2 linked regions of the Homo sapiens genome follow. The protein of the gene in region 2 interacts with the protein of the main gene of each other region in a biochemical or structural test. Each region holds a gene or a part of one and is shown on either strand. Other genes may lie near its edges. The genes, in order: PDGFA and COL3A1.

Evidence for each region.
Region 1: the proteins of COL3A1 (region 2) and PDGFA form a complex in vitro, tested with the Homo sapiens proteins (one study listed by BioGRID).

Annotation. Positions count from the first base shown.
Region 1 is NC_000007.14:491,884-507,508, forward strand, and holds the end of PDGFA (platelet-derived growth factor subunit A isoform 2 preproprotein), read right to left. Parts: intron 9,360-15,625; coding exon 9,233-9,359; intron 8,617-9,232; coding exon of another isoform or gene 8,561-8,616; exon of another isoform or gene 8,548-8,560; intron 6,692-8,547; coding exon 6,681-6,691; 3' UTR 5,375-6,680; downstream 1-5,374.
Region 2 is NC_000002.12:188,990,667-188,998,422, reverse strand, and holds part of COL3A1 (collagen alpha-1(III) chain preproprotein), read right to left. Parts: intron 7,420-7,756; coding exon 7,366-7,419; intron 6,937-7,365; coding exon 6,892-6,936; intron 6,755-6,891; coding exon 6,701-6,754; intron 6,240-6,700; coding exon 6,195-6,239; intron 5,537-6,194; coding exon 5,483-5,536; intron 5,063-5,482; coding exon 4,964-5,062; intron 4,386-4,963; coding exon 4,341-4,385; intron 4,190-4,340; coding exon 4,091-4,189; intron 3,883-4,090; coding exon 3,829-3,882; intron 3,700-3,828; coding exon 3,592-3,699; intron 3,378-3,591; coding exon 3,324-3,377; intron 2,794-3,323; exon of another isoform or gene 2,732-2,793; coding exon 2,633-2,731; intron 2,299-2,632; coding exon 2,245-2,298; intron 2,026-2,244; coding exon 1,927-2,025; intron 1,259-1,926; coding exon 1,205-1,258; intron 1,088-1,204; coding exon 1,034-1,087; intron 724-1,033; coding exon 670-723; intron 158-669; coding exon 104-157; intron 1-103. UniProt on the Homo sapiens protein: Collagen type III occurs in most soft connective tissues along with type I collagen. Involved in regulation of cortical development.

The sequences.
Region 1 (15,625 bases), on a different chromosome or scaffold from region 2:
GTCCTTCAGGGAGGGCAGGCAGGGACGCTTCAAGAGCCTGGGGTCTAGAGGTCTCATGGTGCCGGCCCTCACCACAGCTCCTGCAGCTCTGTGCCTCTACAAGGGCCGGCCACTAAGGAGTCCTCTCACTCAGTCTTTCCATCAGGGAAGCCACTCACAGGTGGGCAAAGGGGGGTAAGGGTTGGCGGTCCTGGAGCTCAGCCCATCCCACCGAGCCTCCCTCTCTTCCAACCAGGGCAGTGGTGCAGCCCAAGGTCACAGTGAGGTCATCCAACATCAAACAGCTGGGCAGAGCCCAGCAGAGCCCAGTACTCTCACCCCATGCTTGGCCGAACCTGGGAGGGGGCACCTGTCTCCCAAGCACTCTGACTCCCTGACCCCAACCCAGACCAGGCCTACCAAGTACCTGTGGTCCAGCTCACACCGGGCCCTGTCACCAGGCAAGCTTGGAGGTCTGGACGGGGGGCTCTGGTTGCCAAGGCCCTGCAGACGGCCATCCCATAAACAGCCCTCCCCGGCCACTCACTCCGTTTTCCCAGCTGCCGCCCCATCAGAAAAGTCCTGCGCTTCAACCCCGTTCCTTCAGCCTGGGCAGCCCCCCTGCTCCGGTTCCCCTGTGCCACGACAAAGCCAGCTCAGCTGAGGTCATGAGGTGGCAGACAGGGGCCAGGGTGTGACTGGGACAGTCAGGGTCAGACAGGGCCCGGAGCCCTGGAAGCTTCTCAACTTTGTTCTAAGCCTACAGAGCAGCAGGGGCTCTAGGAGGGGTGGGGAGAGCAAGGTGGCCTTGGGTTTGGAGAAGATAACCCTGGCTGCTCTTGGGAGAGCAGGTGGCTGAAGATGGCACGCAGATGGGTGGGCGACAAGGTTGTCCAGGTGAGAAGCAGCCAGCCATGGGGAGGCTGGTGCAGGACCCGGAGCAGTTGGGGCCATGCATACACGGGATCTGCCCTCGGGCTGCATGTATCCTCCTGCCCACCTCTGCTCAGCTCCTGCTGCTGCCACCTGGCTTCCTGCCCAGGCCTTCTCCAAGCCTCTGGGGGGATCCTGGAACCTCCCGGCATTCATGTGTGCAGGCTCCAGGTCTCAGGATTTGGAGCCCGGAGCTGATTCAGTGAGGTCTCCCACTTGAACATTTCACACCCCAGCCCCTCCCTGTATTGCTGGTATCTGCCCTCCCGTAAACCATATGCCCACAACTCTGTCCTTCAGGTTCTGCCTCTGGGGCACCCAGGCCAAGGCAACCCCCAACATCCCACTTAGTAGCCTCATCTATGAACGGCACCCCGATTTCCTCGGGAAACCCCGTCCTCCCCCATTTTCTGTCTTGTGCTTCTGATGGAAATCTATCCCACAACAGAAACGGTACATGGGACTCAGACCCAGCGGATCCCAGGACTCCGGATGGAGCCAAAGTGAAAGGTGGGGCCTGGCGCGGTGGCTCACACCTCTCATTCCAGCACCTTGAGGGGCCGAGACGGGAGGATCGCCAGAGGCCAGGAGTTGGAGACCAGCCTGGCCAACATGGTGAAACCCTGTCTCTACTAAAAATACAAAAAAATTAGCCCGGCGTGGTGGCAAGTGCCTGTAGTCCCAGCTACTCGGGAGGCTGAGGCAGAAGAATCACTTGATCCCGAAAGACGGAGGTTGCAGTGAGCAGAGATCGTGTCACGGCACTGCAGCCTGGACGACAGAGCCAGACTGCGTCTCAAAAAAGAAAAGAAAAGAAAGGCTGGGCGAGGCAGGCGGGTCCCCTGGACACTGGGGGACGATCCCGCGGCAGGGCTGGGGGGTGGTTCATGGCACCCCTGGACCTAAGAGTAGGAGGCACGAGGCCATGCCAGGCCCCACCCCAGGCCCCACACCTGGGGCTGTCAGCTTGGAGAAGCGCAGGGTAAGGGGGCACCGGGAAGCCGGACCCCGCGGAGACCAGGCACCGCGCCGAGGTCGTGGGAGACGCTTCGGCCCCCTCCCGGCTCAGAGGCCCCACCACTCTCCCCGGCTGGCGACCCCTCGCGGATGCTCTTCGGGACTCTCCTCCCGCCTCGGCGCTCTGGGGACCCACGTCCTCCCGGGCTGCCACAGCCGCCGCCCACCCTGCTCAGCGCCACTCACGGGTTCATCCTGCGGCGCACCCGCCTCCCGACGGCTAGGGGGGAAACTGAGGCTCTGAGGCGTCAGGAGCCGGCCAGCGTGGCCGCAGGGGCAGGGCCACCGGACTGTGAGGCGCTGGCTGGGCCGTGGGAGGAGCCCGGCGTCGGCCGCTGGGGCTGGGGGCCGAGGCGCGCCCACCTCCAGGGTCCCCGGCACGGGAGCCGCAAGGGCCAGGCCTCCTTCGCCCGCACCGACCCTCCTAGCCCGCCCGCCCCCGGGGCGCCGGAGCCTGGAACCAAAATTCTCCCTGCAAACGGAGGAGGCCACCTTCAGCTTCATCGCTGGGCACGGGTGGCGGTCACAGCGCTCCCGGGGTCTGTCACCCTCGCCGGGCGCCCCGGGAAGCGGCGGAACCCACAGGCGGCGGGAACCTGCCACTTCCGGTCCAGCCTTGGCCCCGGGCCGCGTCCACGTATCGGGAGCCTGGGGTCCCCGTTCTCAGGACTGGGCCTGTGTCCCCTCCTCCTGCCCATCCCGGAAACCCGGGGACCTCAGGACCAGGACTTCCTGGAAACGGCTGTACAGAGGGGACGGGGGAATCCGTGAGGGGGATGGAGGGGATCCGTGAGGGGACGGGGGATCTGTGAGGGGGACGGGGGATCCGTGAGGGGGATGGGGGATCTGTGAGGAGGACAGGGGATCTGTGAGGGGACGGGGGAATCTGTGAGAGGACAGGGGATCTGTCAGGGGACAGGGGATCTACGAGGGGACCAGGGTTCTGTGAGAGGATGGGGGGCTTCTGTGAGGGAACGGGGGTCTGTGGGGTGCAGGAAATTCTGTGATTTTTGCTACTTGAGTTCAAATACCTGCTCTTCCTTTTGGACCTGGAGGTCGCCATCTTCCCTGGGGTCTGTATCTTGGTCCTTGCTGACCCCATTTCCAGGGAGCATGCAGAGGCAAATCTCTGTGAATCTTGGCCCTTTGGTGATAGGTGCAGGGCAAGGAGCTTCAGTCCCAGGCTGGGCACCTGCCCAGGACACAACCCCAGAAGAGCCTGGCTGGCCCTGCTGTTTGCAGGCACTTGGGGAGCTCCCGCCCCAATGCTGCTCCGGAGTCTGGGGCCCAGCCCACCCCTGGGGTGGGGCAGAGTCAAGGCCCAGGAGATGGAAGGGCCCCTGGATGCCCGGCCACAGCACAAGTCCTGCCTCTCTGTGTCCTGCGACCCTTCTACTTGGGGCCCCCTAGGCGTTCCGGGCCTGCCAGGGGCACAGCTCACTCATCTTTAAAATGGGAGCCAAGCCCTCAAGTTCCCACCCCTAGAATTCTTGGAGGAACCCATGGCTAAGTATGAAAAGCCCAAAAAAACCAAGGAGGTCCCAGGAGGGCCGTGGCTTCTTGTGCTTGACAAGAGGGCACAAACCAGAAGGGCTTCTCTGCAGAACGGGATCCCCGAGCCTGGCCCAGCCCAGCAACTGCTCTGCGCACTGGACCCAGGCAAAGACCCAGGCCTCGGCTTCACCTACCGCTGGGAATCCCAAGACAGCTGTAGGGACCCACGGCTGGAGACCACCTGCCGTCACTGACTCTCCCAGCCAGTTCCAACCCCCTCCACAGCCAGGACACAGAGGCCTGGGTGAAGAAAAGGAAACACCCCCAAGCTAAAGGAGAAGCCCAGCAAAGGCTGGGCCCCAGCTCTCATGACCCCTGGCAAGGGCACGGTGTGAGCAGGTGCATTCAGGTGTCCAGGCAGGTGCAGGAACCTCGTTTTAACAGGCGGCACCATCGCCGCTCAGCAATCCCTGAGCCCAAGGGCTCTGTCCTCTGCCATGCTGGGGCCTAGAAACACTAGAGGCTGGAGTGAAGTCCCAGCAGGAGGAGGCAGCAGACAAGACCTGCACCAGGTGAGTCAATGGCGAGGCGTCCTTACCCTGCCTGAGCTGCAGCTCCGTTTCACAGATGTGCACGCCGACATGCAGATGGAGGCCCCTCGGTCAAGGTCACAGGGCTCACAAGACATGAAGAGCTGACCCTGGGCAGAAAGTCACCTTCCTGAGCCCAGATCCAGGTGCAGCCCAGGGCTAGGGGCCGGGAGGGGGCCCAGGCAGGAGCAGAAATCCCGGGAACGCAGGGCAGAGCCGCGACAAAGGCTGCAGGCCCACGTGGGTGGAGAGGCTCGGAAAGGATCCAGCCTCAGACCACAGCCCCCGCCACACTGCAGCCCTTCCTGGCTGGAGTGGCCTCCACTCTGCCTGCCCCTCCCCAGGGCTCTCCCCATGTCGGGACAGGAGGGGCTGGCACTAGGGCCCTCGCCTGCATGGATGAACCAATGAGGGAGAAAAGGAGGGAGTGAGGGAGGGAAGGAGTAAGTAGGGAGAGAAAGCAGGCCTGAGTTCCCACCTCTACTGCTACCTCAGCCACCCCTGGGCTCCAGACCTATGGAATTCTTATGGAATTCTCTCTTCCCCACCTGGCTTTTCTGCCCCATCACTTTAATGGACACGGTATTACACCAGACGACTTTATACAAAAAAGAAAAATGGAGCATTGTCGCCAGCATCTCATGGAAACAAATACATGTTACATTGCCACACGTCACATCCAATGCACATTCCTGGGCAAGGCGCTGTAACCGGTGCAGATCTGGACAGCAGCCCACAGGCCCAGGCAGGGCCCCAGCAGGTGTCCAAGGAACAGGAACCAGCTTGCAACCACCTGGCCCTGCACTTCCCCTCCAGCCTCCAGGCTGCCCTGACGAGGCTGAAAACAGCACCATGAAGATGAGCTGTTGAAGATAATCCTTCGTAAGAACCTTCCAGCAGCACATGGACAACAGACGCCAGCCGGCCGCCAGTCCACAGATGGTCCTCGAAGAACGCGGGGTCAAGATTGAAAGCAACCTCGATGGTTTGTCTCGTGGGCCTGGAGGTGGTGGAGGGGCCAGCCCGGGCAGGGTATGGTGAGTGCTGCACATGGACACACCAAGACAGGTGGGCTCCCTTCTTGGATGAAACTCTTCATGGTCTTCTGGCTACTCTGACACTCCTCATCCGCTCCAGGGAGTGGAGCCTGCAGGAGGATGTCCTCGGCCTAACCCCCATAGGTGCTGAAGTCCGAGGTAGGCAGGCATCCCACGGGTGCCACCATGGAGGCAGGTCCAGGGACCCCACCCAGAAAGCTCTGACCTCCGTTTCCACCCAACACAGCACCGCATGACCTGGCAACCAGGGTCTAGACTCAGTGCTAGAAAAACGTACCACAAAACGCTTCTCACGTCCACGGGTTTTGTTGGTGGTATTTTTTTTTTTAATTTTGGATCAACAAAAAAAGAACATAGCAGGCTCTCAGGTATACAAAACAGGTAATATTAGGTAAACATACAAACTTCACCTTTACAAAAAAACAAACCACACACACACATTTCTGTTAATACAGGTAAAGCACAATATCTTACCAAAAATAAAGAATTTGGGTTCTGTCCAAACACTGGCAGCAGAGGGAGTGACCGCCACCACGGCACCAGGGCACACCAACAACACAGACAGAAGCGGCAATGCATCTCACGTGCCGCGTGGGAACACAGCATTCTAGGTGTGCACTGCGGGGAACAAGTTGTCACTCAGCCACAAACGGGCTCTGGGGCAGGTGCCGCAGGGACGGCGTACGATTGGTTGACGCATAGTTCTTTCAAAATGGCTTAAATTAACAAATAAAGCAGGGTAAGGGAGAAACACAAAGCCAGAAACATTTAGGAAATGATGCATAGGTAGGTATACCATGTTTATTTTAATACATCTCATTAGTTTGCATCTTGCTAGGAAAAATACCGTCGCACTGTCCTGACAGTTACAGCAGCCTGTGTGTTATCGGTGTAAATGTCATCCAAGAGATAATTAAAAAAAAAAAAAAAAAAAAAAAGCTAGCCAAAGAGTAAAAAGGAAAGCTTAATAATCACTTTATGGTGTAAAAAAAAAAAAAAAAAAACAAAAAAAAAAAAAACAAAACAAAAACAAAAAAAAAAACCACTTAAGGCTCTCAGGAAGGTTTCTGTATGGGCTTAAATACTACAGCGAGGAGGTGTGGTTTCTAAAGTTCGCGTGGCGGTTTCCAAGACATTCCTGCTTCCTGCGGGCCCCTGCAGAGCCCACCAGCACCCCTCTGGAGTCGTTCCCAAAGCAGGCTCTGCATCCTCGGCAAAAAAGCACCTGTGACCACCCGGACAGAAATCCAGTCTGCTGAGACCTCTGCACTTCCATCCCACGGGGCGACCCTCCATCTCATCGAGTTTAGATATTTTTGTGAGTCCGTTTTGTTTTTGTCATTTGTGGTTTTGTTTTCTCTCTCTCTTTCTCTCTCTCTCTTTTTGACAAGGAAGCTTCTTACTGCTTCACCGAGTGCTACAATACTTGCTTTGATGTCACATTAAACAAATGTGCACTGTCTCTTTGTTCTCCCGAGTGTTCTCGGACACAGTTTTTCACGGAGGAGAACAAAGACCGCACACTGGCAATAAAGCACCGTACATAGTAGGTTCAGGAATGTAACACGCCATGTACATCCATGTCCCAGGAAAGGGCTGCGGCTCATCCTCACCTCACATCTGCAGGGAGAAGGGAAAGACAGACACTGAGACCACCGACCAAGTGAACCACCCAGCACACACATGGCTGCATAGGAGGAAAACAGGGTGAAAACATTTAACCCAATCAGGGGCACACAGGGATTTCAAGTTTTCAAGAAATTTCCAGAATCACATTTGCCACATTGGCCATGTTGCAGTACCCTGACAGGAATTGGGATTAGGCTCACAGCATCTCACAGAACATGTCTAGAGACCAAGCCCCATTCTCCCATTGTACAGATGGGGGAAACTGAGGCCAAGAATGGCTCATTTGCCCTTCTCTCTGCCTTCCTTTCTTCCAGCCTAGGGCTTAGATGTGATTTCTGGAGCTCTGGCAGCCACCTTGGGCCATGAGACAACCCTGAGGATGGAGGCCACCAGCCAGACAGAAGAGTCTGCACCCAGGCAGACCTATGCTGATCGTTTAAGAACAATTCTTCCACATCCCATGTGGCCTCTCCATCGCACACTCCAACACGTGGGCTGCCTATAGGCTGAACATGAGTACCAGCCAGGCATGGGACAACAGGAGTGCCAGCCTCTCACCATGGGGTCTGTCACCAGCAGGCCCATGGAGGCCAGAGCCTAACGCTCTGTAGAAATGGGACCCACAGGCAGGCACAAAACCACCCACCAGGCCACACTTTCAGCAAACAAAGCCAAGGCTGACCAACAGTCCTGGACTGCTTCAAAGACCCGCCCAAGTGGACAATTTCCTCCCAAGAGGCTCCTCATGAATGGACCTCACCCGCAGGCCCAAGTCCCACATTGCAAACAGGAGCCAGGGTTCTCAGACACCCTATCTCTGAGATCCTCCTCTCTTCTAAAGAAACTATTTGTTTTGGCCACCATGGAGTCCCACGTGCCAGGAGGGGGAACCAGGCCAGACAGGGCTCCAACTTTCCCAAGCCAGACGGGCCAATGCCAAGGACCAGGAAGGCTTGAAACTGCCTCCTCCGTGATGATGGCGGCTGCCCAGGTCCCACCTCCATCTGGGAAGCGACATGTCTTGCTAGGAGACATTTCCCAAGCTCCCTTGCAGTGGAGGGATGGCAGCTGAGAAAAACACAAAAGTCACTGGGTGGGATTTCCAGGATAGCTCTCTAAGGGTGTTATTTTGCCCTTCCCCCCCCCCCCCGCTCACTCCTTCTTCCAGCCTGGAGCACAGATGTGGTTTCTGGAGCTTTAGCAGCCACCTTGGGCCATGAGGCAACTGCAGATGGATGCCACTAGCCAGACAGAAGGCGGACACTGATGATACCTCAAGACTACCCTCCCTGCTCTGCAATCCCACCCTTAGATGAAAGTCATGAAGCTCGATCTTATCTCAATCCCTGTGCTGTCTGGTGTTACTAGCAGCCAAATGCAATTTCCAACACAGTAGCCAACAGCCCTGCACGTTTATAAAGGATTTCCAGATATATTCAGCCTCCAACAGTCCTTATCTGTAATCTCAGTTAAGCCTCAGTTTTTTCATCTGTCAAATGGGGTGGGTGATCCCAGAGTGGCCAGGCGCTCAGAGCTGCCCCACCGCTGCTCAGGTCGCCCAACCTGTTCCATTCATGTGCAATGCTCCTGCATCCCCAATCAACGACAAAGAGAAGGACAAAGCTGGAGGCAGGCTCCCAAGCGGGAGTGAGCCACGGGCCAGGGCGTTCTGCGAGGCAGGAGCGGACGGGGAGCAAGGAGACCCAAGCCCAGCAGACACCATCAAGGCCAATCAGGGCCACATCCCCGCCGCACCCGGCGAGACAGGAAGCGTGATTTGCTGGTGTGATCAGTCAGTTGCACCTCCCCGCCCTGCAGGACTCAGTGTGTCCGGCAGACAGTCCTACCTGGTTGGCTGCTTTAGGTGGGTTTTAACCTTTTTCTTTTCCGTTTTTTACCTGACTCCCTAGGCCTTCCTGTTAACAAAAGGGCAGGGCGGTGAGTGGGCCGAGGGACGGCCGTCGGGGTGAAGAACTGAAGCAACAAATACCTACGGCATTTGTTTATCTTTCCAGAAGAGAAGGCCAGCACCCTGGCACCGAGAAACTTCTGAGTCCCCTCATGCTCCCAGGGCCCAGCCATAGCAGGGCACAGAAGCCATTCTGCTCCTGGGTGGAGTCCGCGTGGCGGGGTGAAGGAGAGACCCCAGCCAGCCAGGGCAACTGCAGTCCTCGAACCTGCTCCTCCCGCCCACCCTGGCAGGAGGCCCTTCTGCAGATTCTTCTCAGCTCAGCCCCGCAGCCCACTAATGAATTGGGTGTCTTATGCACTCCCAGCCCCTCTCAGTGAGACCTGAATCTCCTCTCCTGCCAGTGCCGCAGCTTGGGCCACCCTCCCCACCGGACACCTGCAGGTGTGGGATCCGTCTCCCCCGCAGGCATCTGGCCCGGGAGCAGGGCAACGAATCCTTCAACAGCAGCCCAGATGCTCACAGCAGTAAGCGTTGCGCTCAAGGGGGCCACCTAACACCCCAAAAGCAAGGCTCTGAAGACCTGTTCTCCAACACCGATGCCGACGAAGGCAGCCACTCACCCGTGTCCTCTTCCCGATAATCCGGATTCAGGCTTGTGGTCGCGCAGGCGCACTCCAAATGCTCCTCTAACCTCACCTGGACTTCTTTTAATTTTGGCTTCTTCCTGACGTATTCCACCTTGGCCACCTGCCAGAGAGAACAGAGCCCGGCCATGAATGCCTGCATGGAGCTTCGGACATCACGACGTGCTGGGAGCCGGGGACAGGCTGAGAGGGAGGAGAGAGCAGCCTGACCCCTGACCTCCTCCCAGAAACACTACCTTGTGGTGGGGAGTGTAGCAGTACCAGGTGAAAAACCTACAAGCTGCAGTGCAGTTTTGTGTGTGTGTGTTTTAGTTTTTTCTGAGTAGGGTCTCACCCTGTCACCTAGGCCAATCATAGCCTCTGCAGCCTCAAGCTCTTGGGCTCAAGTGATCCTTCCACCTCAGCCTCCCACCTGTAAGCACAGGCCACCATGCCCAGCTAATTTTAAATATTTTTTTTGTGTGGAAGAGATGAGATCTCGCTATGTTGCCGAGGTTGATGTTGAACTCCTGGACTCAAGTGATCCTCCTGCCTCAGCCTCCCAAAGTGCTGGAACTTCAAGTGAGAGCCGCCGCGCCTGGTGTTGGAGCATGGTATTTAGCAGACTCATCCTATTTTTGTTTAAAATAAACCCAAAGGTTCACGTGTGCCTGGGGGGGCTGAAGGATGCACACTGCTAAGGTGTGGAAGTTTGGGAGTTCTGGGGTGCAGGTGGCCAGGGAAAGTGTTTGCTTGTGTGTGGATGTGCAGCTGGGAAATGTTTTCAAATGATCACGTTGTTTTTAAATACATTTTAAAAGCCAGGCTGAGCATGGTGGCTCACGCCTGTAATCCCAGCACTTTGGAAGGCCAAGGCGGGAGGATCACTTAACTCCAGGGGTTCAAGACCAGCCTGGGCAACATAGTAAGACCCTGCCTCTAAAAACAATTTAAAAATTAGCAAGCCATGGTGGCACCTGTAGTCCCAGCCTACTTGGGAGGCTGAGGTAGGAGGATCGCTTGAGCCCAGGAGTTTGAGGCTGCAGTGAGCTGGTATCACACCACTGCACTCCAGCCTGGGCAATACACCAAGACCCTGTCTCTATTAATATTAAAAAAAAATTTAAAGCCATGGCCTAGGAATGGGGGGTTCGTGGCTGTATCCTAGCCCAAGGTTGCTGTGGACTTGAGCGTCCAGATGATAATCCCAGCTGCTGGCCTGATGAGGGCCCCACCTCCCCGCCGGCCCCAGGCAGCAGGGCCAGCAGACCCATACCCAGGGTCCCCTCATGGCTCCCCCAGGTCCGAGGCTCTCCTTGGGCTCGGAGAGGCCTGACCTCGGAAACCAGGGCCAGGGATCCTGGGCCATCACCGAGGCTACACAAGATGATCCAGGAGGAGCACAGGCCAGCAGGCCGTGGCTATCAGGCACAGGCAGCTCAAAAGCGAACCAGACCTCAGCTGGGTTCCCCTCTTCGGACTGGACTTTGCCTGTCTGCGAGCCACGCCTGCCCTCAATTCTCCAGGCACAAAACCACAACATGGGGGTCCTGCCTCCACAGCCCCTTCCCCGGGGAGCTGCAGGCAGACAATGGCCCAGTCCAGGCCAGAGAGGGGAGCTTCAGGCATTCAACAAGAGAGGCAAGAAATCACACACACACACACACACACACACACACACACACACACACATAATGCACATATAGGCCCTGTCACGGGAACACAACTCCACCCCACACACACACCTGTATAATGCACACACATACCCTGTCATGGGGAGGCAACTCCACCCCCCACCAGTCATGCATGTGTAATGTACACAGGGGCCCCATCGTGGGAATCTTACTACACACACAGAGTGCAAGCACGCACACGCCTGGCATCAACAGACCCCTAATACACAGCCAGGGACTGCATGAGTAGAGTATTGGCTCTCCCAGCCCAAACCCCAGCACTCATTTCATCCTCCCAACCATGCTACAAGGAGGCAAGACTGGCACCTCCATTTACAGAACAAACTGAGGCGCAGGCAAGCTCTAACTAAGCCTGTCCCTAATTGCTAGGCTGTCCCACCTGCCCCCTGGAGCACACACCAGGGAATAGCCACCACCTTCCTGCCCTCCCAGGCCCTGGGGAGCTGAGCACCCAGCAGGCGCTCCATCTGTGCCCACGGAACCAGCCCTGCCGCATGCAGGGTCTAAATGCAAGAACAGCCACTATGGATCACCCACTTCACCCCTCACGGTTCATGGGGAAACTGAGGCTAGAAAGGAAACGGAGGCCGGGTCACCCCCTGAGCACAGGGGCGTGGGGGAATGCACGCTGCTGGGTGAATGAGGAGACCTCAGCCCAAGGCCAGATGCCCCCAGCCCAGTGGCCCTGCCTCCCAGGCAGTCAGGAGGGTGAAGGAGGGAGGAGGGGAATGTTTCCCAACCTTCTTGGGGGGAAGGGGGGACTCCAGACTCTGGAGACTGGGCATCAGCAGGGCCCCCAGGGAGAAGGTCAGCTCTGCACCCTGGGACCAGGCAGGCTCCGAAGGTAAGCCGGTCCCTAAGGCGCTGGGGACCAGGCTTGTCCGAGGCTGAGTTAATGGTTAACCCACAGTGCAAAGGGTGCCTGCAGGCGTGTGAAGTGGTCTGGGCTGCCTGGGGCGTGAGCAGACAGCCAAGTATGAGCTCAACAGTTGCAGGGCGTGGGGCGCCTGGGGTCAGGAGCCAGCTCAGAAACAGGACCTGGCCTGGGAGGTTTCGCTACGTCACAAAGCGTGAGAGAAAGCGGCCAGGACACTGCCGCTTCCTACATGGGGCTCCGTTCCACTCGGGAGGCCTCAGATCAGCCTCCACACTCCCGCGGCAATCTGCCCCTTTCCCCAGGACAGAATCCTCCAGAGAGAGGCCTCCGCAGGCCGTGCACACACTTCCACCTCCCATCTGTAAAACGGAGACCAATCACACCCACCCAGGAGTTGAGGAATAAATGAGGCTGCACATGCAGAAGGCCCCAGAAACGAGGACAAAGCCAGCCTTCAAGAGTGGGCTGCCACTGGCGTGGATTCTAATCCAGAGCCCCAAAACCAACCCACCCCCTGGTCCCCAAGCTCAGCACAGTACCACCACCCACCCACCACAGGCAGAGAGTGGGTCTAGAGCCACCCTCCTGTTGAGGGCCTGGGGTCGGAGAGGCCCGGCCCGAGGATGAACTGCAGCAAAGCCCCAAGAGGAGCAGCAGGGCCACCTGGGACCTCAGCCACCCCCAGCCCTGCAAGCATGTCCTCAGCCCTCCCTGAGTCAAGAACTGCCCAGGTAGTAAGTAACTAGGGATCCCAGTGCGCAAAACCAGGCCCAGCCCCCTCCTGCCTCAGCAGGGACCGAGTTCCTTCCTCCCCTCCCCTGGAGGCCCTGGACACAGGTCCCAGCAGGAGGAACAGCACCAGCCTCACACCCTGCCATCTCCCAGGCTCGAAGCACCCATACTCTGCTGCTCCCACCCACCCCCAGCCTCTGCAGGGGTGGCCAAGTGAGGCATGGGGCAGGTGGGCTCTGAAATCTGGGTTCGTGGGGATGGGCTCGGGCAGGGCGCCCTGTTCTGCTCCCGGCCCTGACCCTCCGGATGGCACAGCCTCTTTGGTCAACAAGCAGCCTCACCTAGTTCCCTCGGCAGGGCAGATACCAGGGCCTGGCTCGGCAGAGACCGCAGGCCCGTCTGGCCAGACACCAGACGCCCAGGCGAGGGGCAGGCTCGCTCTCAACCACTCGAGATGGCCGGCCACCGCGGGCGCGTGGGCTCCCAGGACACAACAGAAATGCCACCCCTCTGGGCACCGTGCGAAAGGCACATGGCACGGCCGCTCGTCTGGGAACCCACTGCCTCCTCAGACAAGCCCGTTTTTATCAAACAAAAACAAACAGCGATGATTGCACCTGTTTCTGAGTATGCCAGGATTCCGGGCCGTTCCGCCACCTCTGTCTGGCCAGGAAATAGCTACATTTTTCTCCCAAGAACACAAAATGAATATTGGATTCTCACAAAAACCTCCTCCATAAAAGAAGGCCAAGTCCAAAGAACAGACTACAATGTCCTCAGGACCCCCACGGGGGGTACCCCGGCCCCCAGGCCCCAAGCCGAAGCCCAAGTGATGGGGGGGGTCCCCATGTCCCTCCCCTTTTTCCGTCCCAGAGATGTGGGCTGCACCTTATCACACCAGACATTCCGATTCCCCACGGCTGAGTTCATCTGCGTCGTAAGCCGCCCCACCTCAACACTCCCGGCGCGAACTCACCCAAGACTACAACCCAGGGATGCCGTCACCCCTCTAGACCTGGGATGCCGAGTCCCTACTGCTACAAAGCCCAGAAGCTGCAGAGACCCCCTGAGGAGGGCTTGGGACAGCCACTCCCTGCGGGGGACCCCACCCCAACTCCAGGTTACGGCCTGACCCTTTCAAGGCTCCAAGACAGAGTATTAGCCATGAAAGACACCTGACTGGACCGCACGTGCCCGTCACTGTAACCCTCACAGCTACCCTGTGAGGACACCATCGTGGTCCATTCTAGAGATGAGAACACACAGCACAGACAAGGGAAGCCCCTTGCCCAGAGTCACACAGCGTTGAATCTCCATCCCTAGCCTGCACTCCTTCTCACCTCTTTCACGGAAAGAAAGCCTAGAGTCCAGAGCCCTGGCCCCACCGCCCCACAGCCCCACCTGGGTGTCTCTCGACAGAGACTTGGAATGTCACTCAATCCAGATGCTGACTTGGGTCATGAGGACCCCAGCTGGGTGCGGTGGCTCACGCCTGTAATCCCAGCACTTTGGGAGGTCGAGGCGGGCAGATCACCTGAGGTCAGGAGTTCAAGACCAGCCTGACCAATATGGCGAAACCTCATCTCTACTAAAAAAATACAAAAAATAGCCAGGCGTGGTGGTGAGTGTCTGTAATCCCAGCTACTCGAGAGGCTAAGGCAGAAGAATTGCCTGAACCCGGGAGGTGGAGGTTGCAGTGAGCTGATATCGGGCCACTGCACTCCAGCCTGGGCAACAGAGTGAGACTCTGTCTCAAAAAAAAAAAAAAAATCCCTCAAGTCGGGCGTGGAGGAGGTTCATACCTGTGATCCCAGGAATTTGACACCAGCCTGGCCAACAAAGCAAGACCCTGTCTTTATAACAAAGAAAAAAAAAGAAGATCCTGCCTCCTTCAGCACTGCCCCCATATCCATTAAGAATGGAAGCAATGCCCAGACCTCAAGCTCGTGTAAGAGGCCCCTGCCCAGCCTGGCTCAAGAGGACCTCCACTCCGCCCACCTAGAGACTCCTGCACCAGACCCCAGAGAGTGGACAGAGTCGTGGCTGGGAGCTTCTCACCCGTAACACCCCAGCCACTCTGTTCCAGGGAGCAGAGGCCCATCCCAAGCACCAGGTGAGCACACACCTTCTGGAAGCCTCCAGCACAGCAAGGTGGGCTCAGAGCCAGCTCCGTCCAGGCTAGACCCCTGCAGTCCTCGGGCTGGCATCTCATCCCCATGGTCCACGTTCAGGCCCACACTCCTGTCCTACCCCCGAGGCTTGGGTCTGGGGGAGAGTCGGGCGTCCAGGCACCAAGAGCTAACTGTGCCAGGCAGAGTGCAAGGAAACACCCACCCAGCTAGGGACCCCGGCCAGTCACTCCCCCAGGGCTGCCGGTCAGTCACATCCTGGTGATCCCAGCAGGGTCTGTGCCAGGCAGTGACACTCCCAGCTTCACTACCATCCATCTTCTAACAAGAGACCTCTGAATGTTGACCGGAAAGGCATAAAAACTGGAAATGGGGGATGCCATGCCCATCCTGGGTGGACAGACTTTGGGGGCCCCTCCCGGCCAGCCCCAACCCCTTTGACCTCAGCTGACCCCATCCATGCCCACTCACAGGCACAGAGTCTGAGGCTCTGGGGCCCATCTCCTCGCCAGGTTGACAGCCGCCTCCATCCGCAGCGGCAGGACCGGTCTCTTGGCTGAGCCTCCAAAATGGGCCTCCTGTTCCCTCTGACCTTTGTCCCCTCAGCCAAAGCCCCCTGGGTCCAAAGCCGGATGTTTTCCTCCAACCCTCGGATGGGTGGGCAGGGAGAAGACGCCTCCCAGAAGCGGGAACATGAAGGGGGCCTGGGTCTGAGGAGGTGGGAACTGGGCCGCCAGGCTCTGCTGCAGGACACAGCCCTGAGGCCTTAGGACACCCTGTCCCGGCAGATGAGACCCAGAGGGAGAGCCCTGGTCCTGGCTCTACCACTGCACAGAGCAAAGCAGGGGCCACTCCCAGCGGGGAACTGGCCCTCACCCCCAACACTGCACTGGCCAGAGGGTGCTGGAAGCCTCTAGACCCCACCCAGCCTCCTCAGGGGGCCGGGGGAGGGAGAGAA
Region 2 (7,756 bases):
TCTCAAATATCATGGCATAAGAAAATTAAGAAGTTAATAGTTGACAAACAAACAGTGTGTATTCTTTTTGTTTCTGAGTTTTGAATAATGAAACGTAACTTACTGGTTCCCCAGGTTTTCCATTTTCTCCTGGAGGACCACCTGTACCAGGCAAGCCCTAGAAAGAATCATATTTGTATTAGGTAATTACCTCAAACATGGCTTATAGAAAAGCTTCTCATATGTACACATGTTTCTGCAAGATATTAAAAAAAAGTTCCAGTGGTCTTGTAGGGGTAGAAACGTTGTGCCACTCAAAATCCAGTGACACATACGTGATAATCATATTTTACAAACCCATTTTCATCTCTCTCTGTTCTTTCAATTGCTACACGTAAAAATGTATTGACCAGCATGGCAGGATAGACTTGGCTATATGGATTTATGTTATAATAAAAATAAGTGTAACCAAATAGAATTATTTGAGTTTCATTAATTCTTTTAAATAACTTATTAATGTGCTCTGGAACGGACATGGAAGATATGCCTACCTATTAACATTGCCTAAAATTTTATTTCCAGATGAAAGACAGAATCACAAGTTAAGCTTCAGATAAATTATAATCTATTAGGGACACAAAAAAATTTGACAGTCAGATATGCCGTGACATTTAAATAACAAGTTCTTACTTGTAATCCTTGTGGACCAGGGGGTCCTGTGTCTCCTTTGTCACCACCAGGCCCCTAGAAAAGTATAATGATACACTCTGTTGTAAACATCCTTTTATATTTAGTCTACAGTATCCATTTCAACAGGCCTGTTGCTTAATTATAAAAGTAGTGATGTGAAGAAAAGGGAGGACCTGGACCCAAAGCACACATGTACACTCTAAACTCAATGCTAGCATTTAGCTAGATAACTAGGTCAGCAAGTTTCATCATTGCTTTGGTAAACTGTAACAACATGGTGTCAGAGATTATGTAATTTTTGAAGCATTCTTCCTGCCCCACCTCCACCCTATTTTCATCTCCAATTTTATATGAGTGAACTTACAGTAGGCCCTGGGGGTCCCTGAGGTCCAGTTTCACCATTCTTTCCAGGAGGACCCTAAAAACAAGAACAGTTAGGGAAGTAGAAATAATACAGATTACAGAGAGAAGTCAGAAGGTTGGAGATGAACGCATCTATTAGAAGGCTAGAAATAAATTGAGGAAAGCTACGTACCTGAGGGCCAGGTCCTCCAGGGCCACCTCGTTCTCCATTCTTACCAGGAGCACCCTAAAGAAGAAGTGGTCGGTATTTACTAATCCTCAAAGGGCAATAACTAATCATATTATTGTCTCATATATATATGTCTCATATATATATGTCTCATATATATATGTCTCATATATATATGTCTCATATATATATGTCTCATATATATATATACACACACACACATACATATTTTTGAGACTGAGTCTTGCTCTGTCGCCCAGGCTGGAGTGCAGTGGCGCAATCTTGGCTCACTGTAGCCTCTGCCCCCCGGGTTCTAGTGATTCTCTTGCCTCAGCCTCCTGGGTAGCTAGGATTACAGGCACATGCCACCATGCCTGGCTAATTTTTGTATTTTTAGTGGAGACAGGGTTTCACCATGTTGGCAAGGCTGGCCTAGAACTCCTGACCTCAGGTGATCTGCCTGCCTTGGCCTCCCAGAGTGCTGGGATTACAGGCGTGAGCCAGCGCACCCAGCCTGTTTCATATTTTTTATCTGCCTGCTCCATACACACACATACAACCATAACCAATTATATATTTAGCTCCCTTCCTACATGCAATTTGATTTTCATATACTCCTCCATGCTTTGAAGAGGAGACTGAGTTTTGACCATTTCTTTACTCCATATGGAAAATAAAAGCCTTCCAGTCAAATATTTATTGAAGAAATTAATGAAGGAACTCACATCATTTCCTTTAGGACCGGGGAAGCCCATGACACCAGGCTGACCTCGGGGACCAGATGGCCCAGGAGGACCTGGTCGACCACTTTCTCCTTGACTTCCCTAATAAGAAAAAATTACATTAATAAAGGTTTGATAAAGAGAAGATTAAAGCATGCTATATATATAGTATGTGTGTGTGTGTGTGTGTGTGTATATATATAGATATACATATACATATATATATATACACACACACACACACACACACTCAAGGATAGGCCAACATATACATTCCATTTTAACTGGCCTTTTAAAATGAGATTTTAAAAATGTACATACGGGAGGCCCTGGTTTCCCATCACTTCCTGGTCCTCCTGGACTTCCGGGCATGCCCTGAAGTAAAGAAGTCAGTTGTTAGGTGATTTAAAATGAAATAATAAAAAATTACTACATACACTATTTGTATGATTTTGATATTTTCACTTACATGTGAAGCCTCAGATTTGCACATCTTTTTTCCTGTCTATAAAGTATCTAAGGCAAGTGTTCTATCTTCTCTTCTCCTTGAACTATCTCGGCTTAAGTTTACTTAAAAGAATTTTGTTTTGTTTGGTGCCTTACAAAATATGTAATCTGATTGATTTAAGTTGCTTTTGATCTGTCTTCATTTGTCTTGCCTTTCTTCTGTCTAAATTAAAGTGTCATTCAAACAAATGTTTCTCTGTACCCTCATTCCTGGACCTCCAGGGACGCCATCTCTGCCAGGTTCTCCAGCAGCTCCTCTGGGCCCTGCAGGGCCTGGAGCACCACGCTCTCCAGCAGGACCCTAAGTAGTGAAAGAAATTTTAAAAAAATTAAAATAGCCTTCACTAACCTAGATAGCAACAATATTTTGGTTACAAAGAGAGGACGTCATTTGAACTTTTAAAAAGGGTTCGTGTGTTGCTGAAACATTTATACATAAAATCAGTTATCTTAGCTTGGATTGCCATATTGAAAAAATTTTAAAGCAACTTTGTGAACATCACATGCTTAATAAAACAGTATTCACTGTGCTTAAAAATATAATTATGTGCAGCTAAAATCAAATATCTTAATGCTATGAAATCATATTTGATGTAACCTTAGAGTTTTCAAAGACTTTTCAGGCATTTTAGTTTACTGTACTCTTGCAACGATGCTCAGATAAATGCTTTCCAATTAACAGATAAGTAAAGGATTCTCATAGAGGGTAAGTAAGTGGCTTTAGTTACAAAGCCAGGAAAGTTGTTGAACAGAGGATGCATTATATTAGGAATTTTTCTTAACTCTAATATATATTCTTCAGATATTTAGGTTTTCATGAATGAGAAATTGTATACAAGAACTGCCCATTTGTGGTGCTAGCATTTAGGAACATAGAAACTAAAGTTATCTACCTTTTCTCCTGGGATGCCATTTGGTCCAGCAGGTCCTCGGAACCCAGGGGCACCCTGAAAATAATGAAAGACAAGTATTTCAGTCCAAAGGATTTCAATTCTTTTTCATAATTCTTGAGTGGCAAATATTTTTATGTCATAGAATGCTTTAAACAATATTTTCACTGAACACTCAACTTAAGAAAAATTGGCTGTCTCACCCTGAAGGTAGTTTTATTTAGATGACAGTGATGCTGCTTTTCTTTTAGATGCCCCATGGAAAACGTACCCTTTCTCCTGCAGCTCCTGGAAGCCCATTTGCACCAGGTTCTCCAGGTGATCCATCCTTGCCATCTTCGCCTTTAGCTCCTGGAACACCTGGAATACCAGCCTCACCCTGAAAAAAAAAAAAGATGGTAAAATAAAGAAATTATGACTGAATTTAGTTCAAAGTTTTTACCTGTTTACTTTCTAATTATGTTGCATTTTTTCAAGAAATAACCAGATCTGTTGCAGTAAAACTTACGCGTTCACCACGTGGTCCGGGCTCTCCTTTGGCACCATTCTTACCAGGCTCACCCTAAAGTATAACAAAGTCTTGGTTGAAACACAGGGAGGATTCGACTAACAAATCATCACCAGTAACACATAATTCAGTTATAAGTTATAAGACAAGAGTGAAGTCAATATAAATTCAACTGAACAGGAGCAAAATTTTGCTATTAATTTTTTGTTGATGGAATTAAACTATACCTTTCAGTCAACAGAGAAAAAACAAGGCAACTTACTGCACCACCTCGCAGTCCAGGAGCACCATTAGCACCGGCTGGTCCTGGAGGACCCCGGGCTCCCATCAGTCCAGGAGCTCCAGGAATGCCAGCGGGACCCTAAGAACAAACCAAAGACACTATATTAGCCGAACTTGAATGTTCTTTTATGAATATCTCACTTAAATATCACAAATCTATTGTCATGCAAAATGCAAAAGAAGCCAGTAATGTGTGGATGAGATAAGGCTGAGGAGTGGGGACAGCTTACCATTTCGCCTTTACCACCAGGACTACCATTAATCCCAGGAGGGCCCTAAGTATACAAAAAACAGATAATGTATTAATAGTAATGCAAATAGTTCGTATATATTTGAAGTTGTTTGTGTGAAAATAAATGTATCGATGAGTGTTATGCTTTGTAGAGATTAAGTGAATCCTCCAACTATAACACAACATATGAAATGTGGTCAAAAGAATCATCATTATCTAAATAAATTAGAGATAATATGTACTTCGTATAAATTATTAAATGATACATAAATAGAAGAGATTTTGAATTTGGTTCTTCTCTGAATTTTTATGATTGGTGATTAGCTTGGGGCACATTCTTGAAAGCATCAGAAAACTAGTCTATCCTCTATTCTTTTATATAAACATAAAAAATCATGAATTCTGGAATAGTGCAACAGTCAAAAACTATCATTTTTACTACTAATCAAATCAGTATGTGTCACAGGAGGATCATTTTAGAGCACTAAGCAACAATTTTTTCAAAGTAATTTTCACTGATAGCCATATTGAAGCACATGCTTTCATGGAGTAAGCATGAAACTATGCTTTCATGGAGTAAGCATGAAACTATGCTTACTCCCTCTCAACTATGATACTTACAGGAGGACCTTGAGCACCAGCGTGTCCCTGAGGTCCAGGTTCTCCTCTTTGTCCAGGGGCACCATTTGAACCAGGAGACCCTGCAGGTCCAACTTCACCCTAATGGTAAAACCTTGTGTAGTCAGTTTCTCTTACCACTTCTACTCACTTAGCCACTTCACCCTTCAGTCCTGTTTAAACACATCTCCCAAAAGTTGGAGTAGTGGGACTCTATACTGCAGGTAAAGCAAGGAATCATTAATCGTAAAGGCAGAGAAAAATGTAACTATGTGTGTGTGATTGCATTATCAGTTTCCTAGAAAGAGTCTGGGGAAAAAAAGAAGGTAGCAGAAGAAATATCAAGATAGTTGAATACTAGGGACAACACCTCTTTTAGAATCAAGAATAGGGCTTTAAAGACATGTATAGATAAAAGCTATCCATTTGACTGATTAAAAAAATCAGTTGCAAGAAGCAATCTAATGCTTTTCTCTTGCCTCCAAGATATTTTTATACCCTTCTATAGAAACACATGTTTACCTTAGCACCAGGGGATCCAGGGAATCCGGCAGTTCCAGGAGGACCAGGAGGGCCCTGAAAAAATTAAATACAATTTCAAGAGCTCTTTTTCAACTAAATGAAAGCTGACATACTAGTAAATAAGTGAGCACATATAAAGTAAAGAAGATATTTATGCAGATAAAAATGATATTCATATTTTATGGATATTATGTAGAGAAACAATGTGGTAAAATAAGAAAAGAGTGAAATCTAAAGTTAGAAATTCTTGGTTTCTCCCTACTTTGCCATGAATTCTGTGACTTAGTGCAGGCTACTTTTCCCTGGGCTTTTGTACTCCAGTCTACAAAATGGAGGTAACATCTATTTTATCCATTTTGTAGGACTCTTTAAAGTGCCATGTCTTACATAGGATATTAACTAACATTGGGAGCACCATTCAAATGTTAGCAGTTGATCAAGCAGAATGAGTGTCAGAACCTAGATTTTGTTTATGGGCTCAGTGTCAGTTTTAATCACAGGAGTGTATATACAATATTAAGTATTGGGGCTACAATATTTTTTCACTTTTTAAATTGTAAAAATGGTCAACAGAGATGCTAATGTGTATATTAGAGATATACATATGCATATATATATACCTAAGAGTATATACATATATAAAATATTAAATAATCCACAATCCATAACTTCTCATTACCCTACAACACATAAGAGATAGAAAGTTACTTACTGGTTGACCATCACTGCCTCGAGCACCGTCATTACCCCGAGCACCCTAAAAAGAGAAGTTTACATCAAATATCCTTTTAATTCTGAATGGCTGGTCATGAGTAATATTTTGACCAAAATTCTGACTCAAGTGAGTTGAGTTTTCTTCAAGTACATTAAAATCTGCTTAATAATTATGTATTTTAAAGTCAATTATTACAATTCTGATATATACAGCAACAATCAAATGTAGAAGGATTGGAGTCTGTGTTTTCAGGACTGAATGCAGATATAATGGCTCAAATGACATATGAAAAGTTAACACAAAAATTCTCAATAGAGATAATAATTGTAAAACAATTATTCATTTCCTTTTAACTATAGCCAAAACTTTATCACAGTATCATTGAGTATAATTTTGTAGGAAGGTCTTTTTCCTAACATATTTTTACAGCCTGAAACTTTACTGAGGCTGTAAAAATCTGTCACTTTGGGTTGTAATTGTGTGATGTTAGCAGCTATACTCACTGCAGCCCCAGGAAGTCCTGGCCGTCCTCGCTCACCAGGAGCCCCTCTTGGACCCTACAGAGTAAAATTGAAATATGGTTTTACTCTAATCTTGACATGTGTAAGAACAGTTGGGGTGGGAGCAAAGCCAGTTTTAGGTAACAATGAGGTTAATAATAAAACTGAAAATTATACATAAGAAACATAATTACCATGGGTCCAGGAGCTCCATTTTCGCCTGGAAGACCATTTTCACCCTAGATACATATAAAATATGTTACTATTTTACAAAAGAGGAAGAAAATATTATATATTTTTAAATACAGAATATTATGGAAAAGTTTATAGAGCCTAGAAAAAGATATACATTTTAACAATATTAATTTTCTGTTAGTATTTTATTTACCAGAAATCTCAATTTCTGTATTTAAAAACTTAAAGACTAAAGTGAAGTAATTGATAAGTTATACTAAGATGCTCAACTATTTCTAATCTAGACTCTTCAAGTTGTCATTTTTCATGGAAGCGTTAATAGAATATCTGAATTGGTTACCATTATTCACACCTAATAGGTAAAATTCAGGTAAATTTCAGAAAACAAGTTAAGGCTCACAATATGAATCTTATATGTAGCTTTAATATTTAATGAATTTACTTATGAAAATATGATTTTTGTTGTGATTTACCTTTAATCCAGGAGCACCTGTTTCACCCTTTTCTCCATTTCGTCCATCGAAGCCCTAGGAAATGTATAAAACCAGCAAAATTATTAAAATCTGTTAATAATCTAGAATGATTGATAAAGTTTACATGGTATTTTTCTAATTGGTCTTCATAACACTACTTGCAAAATTAGCTTAAATAATTTAAAACTTGTTTAAAGGGGTTGAAGATATTTCATACTGATTTTACAACAGGAAAACATGAAAACTAGAAAGTGCAATTTAGTCTGATAAGAAAGTTGCCTTAACTATAGAGTAGCAAACATGAGTTTCATAGATTTTATTATAATTCAGTTGATAGGTTGTAGGCACAGTTGGTTGAATGTACGAAATATTTTGCATAGAATAAAGTTGT